2 separate regions of the Homo sapiens genome follow, and region 2 is linked to region 1. The links come from fine-mapping of genetic effects on gene expression. A gene starts in region 1. The other region holds a variant in brackets. All regions are shown on one strand. Distances are from middle to middle. Region 1 holds the start of SMPD3 (sphingomyelin phosphodiesterase 3). Region 2 overlaps SMPD3 (sphingomyelin phosphodiesterase 3).

What was found. PIP is the estimated chance that this variant, and not a neighbour inherited with it, causes the effect.
Region 2: its variant is fine-mapped to the expression of SMPD3 in whole blood (INTERVAL, PIP above 0.99).

The regions. Positions count from the first base shown.
Region 1 is chr16:68,447,054-68,449,952 of GRCh38, reverse strand. SMPD3 (sphingomyelin phosphodiesterase 3) reads left to right here and starts at 1,445. Exons shown (of 9, transcript NM_018667.4): 1 at 1,445-1,600. It overlaps LOC124903705 (a long non-coding RNA gene), which reads right to left and starts at 1,113. Exons shown (of 2, transcript XR_007065097.1): 1 at 887-1,113; 2 at 1-788. RefSeq lists an enhancer at 1,078-1,127 and a silencer at 1,228-1,747.
Region 2 is chr16:68,365,891-68,368,755 of GRCh38, reverse strand. All of the region lies in intron 3 of SMPD3 (sphingomyelin phosphodiesterase 3), which reads left to right. Among named protein-coding and RNA genes, the nearest start is that of PRMT7, 56 kb to the right of the region's middle. RefSeq lists enhancers at 35-234, 661-1,213, 1,214-1,767. The variant AGCAGCGCACG/G (reference allele first, on the strand shown) is at 1,311.

The DNA.
Region 1 (2,899 bases):
CAATCTCGACTCACTGCAACCTCCACCTCCCGGGGTTCAAGCGATTCTCCCGCCTCAGCCTCCTGAATAGCTGGGATTACAGGCACGTGCCACCACGCCCAGCTAATTTTTGTATTTTTAGTAGAGACTGGGTTTCACCATTTTGGTCAGACTTGTCTCGAACTCCTGACCTAGTGATCCACCTGCCTCGGCCTCCCAAAGTTCTGGGATTACAGGCGTGAGCCACCACGCCCGGCCCAATTCATTTTCAATTCAACAAATATCTATATTTATATCTCAATAGCTAGTGAGTGCCTACTACGTGCCAGATACTAGACACTGGACTGTAAGTATGAATAATATAGACATGGCCCCTCCCCTGTGGATCTTATAATGAGGAAGACGAGCACATAAACATGCAAGTAGAACAGGGGAAGTAGAGGGTGCTGCTCAAACACAGGGTGGGGCACTCAACAGACAGCCCAGCATCTAGATGTCTTCACAAAACAGGCAATGTCTAGGCTGGGGCTTGCCGACGAGTTAGCTGAGGGCAGGGTGGAGAGGCCCAAGGGAGTAGGAGGCTTCCCAGCTTCCAAAGAAGTTAAGAGTGTTGCAAAAAAGTGGAGTCCAGATCTTGAAGGGGAGAGTGGGCTTAGGTCCGGGGGCATGTGAAGCGCCCTCCGTCTGCTGCGCTGGGGGAGATGCTGCGGTATCCTGGAGTGGTGTGAAGGAGGCCAGGACCTGCGATGGGAAGACGGAGACGGGAAGGCCCTGGTGGCCCAAGGGATGACCAAAAGTGAAGCGCTCCTCTATGACAAGATTGAGACAAAAATAAAGGAATAAAGTTCTGAATGCGGTGGGAGAGTCTCCTCCGTCCTCCCTCACCTTTGCTGGGCAGGAACCAAACCTGCTTGCCCTCGGTTTGCCCCATCACCGACGGGTGTGGTCGGGGGCACAGCTCTTCGCCCTTCTTCTCAGATAGGAAAACTGAGGCCCAGGGTCCTGAGGCAGAAATCAAGGTTTTCTCCTCGAAATGGCCTCCCAAGAGGCTGCCCGGGGTCTCACACGATCCTTCGAGGGTCCTGCGGCCTGCCCCACGCCTCCGCCAGCCATCCTCGGCTGGTCGTCTTTGCTATGGAAACGGTCCTCCCGCCCTGCTCCGCGCCTCCGTGTCTTCAGTGCACTCTGGGAAATGCAGTCCCGCTCTGTTTGCCTACCCGCGGCGTGAGCCCACTCCGCGTCCTTAAAGAACTATAAGTCCCAGAAGGCTGTGCGAAACTCCGCCGGTCTCTGGGGGATGTGGTCTTGAAGGAGAGACCCAGGAACCTGCGGGCGGGGCCGGAGGGAGAGGGGAGGACGCCCCCAATGGGCAGACTCCTGGGCGGGGTCCGGGTCACCATTGGCTCCGGCGGCGCGAGGGAGGCGGGGTCAGAGGAATGAAGCGCGGAGCTGTTCGCCGCTCCAGGTGCTGAGTCTGAGGGAGGCTCCGGACCCGAGAGCCGCGAGAGCCGCCGCCGCTGCGGCCGCCGCCAGATCTGCGGCCGGGAGCCCGGGCTGTGAGGAGCCGGGAGGAGCGGGGTGCGCTGCCGGGCGCTGACCGCCCTCCCGCCCGCCGTCAGAGGTCAGTGCTGCTGAATTCGCTTTTGTTTTCTTGGGGAGCGGGCGAACCGAGGCGTGAGGGGCTGGGGAGTTGACGGGACGTGTTCTCGTTGCTCTCAGGACCGCGGGTCCCGGACAGCCGCCGACTGACTAGGGGCCTCCCGTGGCCGGGCGCCGGAGGTCGGAGCAGCTTGGGTTAGTTTTCGTTTTATCATGGAGAAGGCTCTTGGGTATGAGGGGCGAGGGCTGGGGGTCACCCCCACCCCCCATCTCTCCTGGGAGAGCGAGGAGGCTTGGACCCTCCCTCCCGCTGTGCCTGGCGACGGGGCTGCTCGGATTACTCAGGACGGGAGGATGAGGTGTTGTGGGATGAAGGGACTCGAGGCAGGGGGACCCCTCCCCGCAACACTTCGGCTGCTCGAGGTTACAAAGGAGTCTGGTGGTGATGGATGAGATCGCGGACCGCTCCCCTAGCCCAGACCCTCCCAGGGGTATTCAGGAAGGGCTGCTTGGGATGCAGGGAAGACCCTTGCCCAGGCCCCTTCCTCCACACTCGCCCCCCTCCCTATTCCCCCCTCCTCCCTTGGCCCTAGGGTTTTGTAAAGAGGAGGATCGAGGATGTGGAAGAGACAGAGGACTCTTACCCCTCCCACTTGGACCCTCCTAGGTTACTGGTGAAGGGTGGAATTGGAATGTGGCAGGGAAACGCTGGGAGACCCCTCCCCATCCTTCTCGGAGTCGCGGGTGGAGGAAAGCACTGACACTCGGAATCCCCCGCGCTCGGGCCCGCGCCGAGGGTTGGGTGGCCTGGGTGTGAGAGGTAGTGTAGGGGGATGTACGAGGACAGGAGGGACCCCTCCCCACCTCTCCCCACCTGGGCCTTATCTCCCAGGCCCTCCCTACCTGGATCCAGGCCTGGGGCTCTAAGTCGAGACGACCCGCCCTAGCCCACCACGCCCCGGGGACCGAGCCTCTGGCACCGCAGCTGGGGGCCAATCCCAGATGGGCATGTACAGAGCGGGACGGGGCGGGTCTCCCCTCAAGCACTCAAGAGCTCCAGGTAGACGCTACCCCCAACCTCGTGCCCGCGAATCTTTGGGGGCTGCTCCGCTCCGATGCAGGGCGCACCCCAAACCGAGGCTCGGGGACCTGCTTCCAGGACGCGCGGTGGCTGTTCCAAGGCATGGGGCTTTCGCGCTCGGCCCAGGCATCCTCGAGAGGACAAAGCGGCGGTCGCCGCACTGGCAGGCCTGCGCCGCGGGCTGGGCGGGGGGCGCGGCCGCGGAGGGGGGGCTTCGGGCGCGGCGCGGGCAGCTTCCAC
Region 2 (2,865 bases), 81 kb after region 1:
TGCAGCTTCCATTTCTGCCCTTTCTGAGGCCCCTCTGCTTTGTCCTGGCCCAGACCTCTCCCCCCAGCCCTACATCTGGCTGCCTCCAGGACACATCCCCATTCACTCGCAAACCAGACTCAGCCTCTGCCCCGGGCTGCTCCTCTTCTGTGTTCTGCCATCCTGAAGCCAGAAGGACCACCTTGGCTGCTCTGTCCTGTGCCCGACCCATCCATTCCAGGCCCCTAGCTCACTTTCCAGATGGCCCTGGGTGCACCCCACATCTCCAGCTCCCTTGGCCCAGGCCCCCTCCTCTGCATCAGCCCTGCTGTGGTTTCAGCCACCCTCCTCGTCTGAGGCCAGGTGTGACTCCTCTTATGCCCTCCACTGCCTCAGGAAGTCTGAACGTCACCTTGTACCACCTCCCGCCCCCCTGCCCCCGCCACCCTTAGCTCCAGCTCTGCCCCAGCCACAACCCCGATGAGGGGCTCCTGTACCCCTGGCCCCTGCTTGTCTTGGTCCCACACTGGGTGTGGCCACACCACCTCATGGAGCTCCCTCAGCGGCCAGCCACACAATCCTCTCTTCCCTTCATGGGCTCCTCTGCCCTCGTGCCCAGGGTCTTGTCTGTCCATCAGACAGAGCACCAGGACAGCAGAGCTGTGGTGTGCCCAGCACACGCGGATCCCAGCGCGGAGAAGTGAAGTACGTGGGGCTGCCTTGGGGACAGGCCCAGCCGGAGAGGGGCCGGGACGCTGGAGGGACTCGCTGCAGAAATCAGCGGTCCCCTCCTTCCCGGAAGGCCCTCATGGTTTCCCGTATGGGACTTCAGAGCCTTCAGGGAAATGTGGCTCTGTGAAGGAAGGGACTGGAATCCCTTTTTCCTCACCTACAATAGAGCCTTATTCTGGACACCTCTTCCGTTGACAGTCTTTGCCCGCCAGGACTCAAAGGCACAGCCTTTCGTGTGATTGCTTGTTTTTGCAAGAGAAACACAAGGCTCTGCGGCTCCCAAGGCCACGAGCCAGGAATCAATGAGGCCCAGCAAATAATCAAGTGGATCTTGGTGAGATCACACGGCAGATGAGGAGGGAGAAGCGGGGCGGGAGGGAGCAGGACCTCGTCACTCCTCCGGCCAGTGGGTTCTTGTCGTGCAGGGCCCAGTCTGAGGCCTCCCTGCGAGTGTCCAACCCTGTCCGGGACACAGCGCGGGGCAGGTGACACCAAGTGTTGGATGAGTGAGAGGCTGACGCCTTAAGACCAACAAACAGGCGGCCGGGGAGAAACCGCAAAGACACCAGCCCCTCAGAAAGCAGCGCAGAGCAGCGCAC[AGCAGCGCACG/G]ACAAACAGATCCGACTGGAAGCTGCCTCTTAGACCATGTGAGCCTGTGACCCCGGCCCACAACTCAACTTCTGGCCTCAGTGTGTTCAACGGTAAAAGCAGCATCACTTTATCATGTGCCTGAGCCGTTGTAAGGACCCAGAAAAGTAATGTCCATGCGTCGCCACCCCACCCCAGCACGAGCCCACTGGGCCTGAGATGATCCTCATGGAGGAGGAGCAGTTGTTGCCTGAAGACGGCGCCCCCGTGTGGTCTTTTATTTATTTTGAGACAGTCTCATTCTGTCGCCCAGGCCAGAGTGGTGCAATGGGGCGATCTTGGCTCACTGCAACCTCCGCCCCCCAGGTCCAAGGGATTCTCCTGCCTCAGCCTCCTGAATAGCTGGGGTTACAGGCATGCACACCCAGCTAATTTTTTTTTTTTTTTTTGAGACAGAGTCTCACTCTGTTGCCTAGGCTGGAGTGCAGTGGCATGATCTTGGCTCACTGTGACCTCCGCCTCCAAGGTTCAAGCGATTCTCCTGCCTCACCCTCCTGAATAGCTGGGATTACAGGCACATACCACCACGCCCGGCTAATTTTTGTATTTTTAGTAGAGACAGCGTTTCACCATGTTGGTCAGGCTGGTCTCAAACTCCTGACCTTGTGATCTGCCTGCCTCAACCTCCCAAAATGCTGGGATTACAGGTGTGAGCCACTGTGCCCAGCACACCCGGCTAATTTTTGTATTCTTAGTCGAGATGGGGTTTCATCATGTTGGCCAGGCTGGTCTCGAACTCCTGAACTCAGGTGATCCACTTGCCTCGGCCTCCCAAAGTACTGGGATTACAGGCGTGAGCCACCGTGCTCAGCCTCATGTGGCCTTTTGAGCATGGCGGCTTCATCAGTGTTTTGTTTTTGCAGCAGAACCATCAATGCTGCGTGATCTCACAGAGCCATTCGGGGGGCGGGGATGCTGTTAGGCTAAGGTTTGGGTCTGTCTGTGGGCAAGAAGTGAATGGTGAACCTGTGGGGCTGAACAGCCAGACGTTCGTACCCCCAGGTGCTGGGGAAGGAAGGCTGTGCATTAGGGCTGGGAAGGGGATGAAGAGCTGTAGAAAGCCAGGGGCACCTGCTGCTGAGGACGTCCAGATGGAGGAGATAATACCAGCCTGACCGACTGCAGCAGTGAAGGAAGGACGGAGCCTGCCGAGGCTGTTGGAGCAGATGGGCTGTGACGTTTGGGCTGCTGTGAGCTCCACAGATGTGGGGCACCCACCCTGCGGCCCTCTGCCCTCAGCCAACAACTGGGAGAGGCAGTGTGTCCTGCCCAGCCACCTCCCTGGAGTGCTTTTTGGGTCTGGGGTCTCCTCATCTTGGGAAACTCAGTCTGGAATGGATTTGCATGGCTTGGGGAGGGTACAGAGGCACAGGAGGGAAGGAATCCCAGGGGCAGGGGATGAGGAGCTGGTAAGCGGCCTCTCTGTGCAGGGCATCTCTGTGGCCATCCCTCACCTCTCCTGGGCTGAGCACTGACAAGGGCTCCATCTTGCCCCCACCTGGGGTA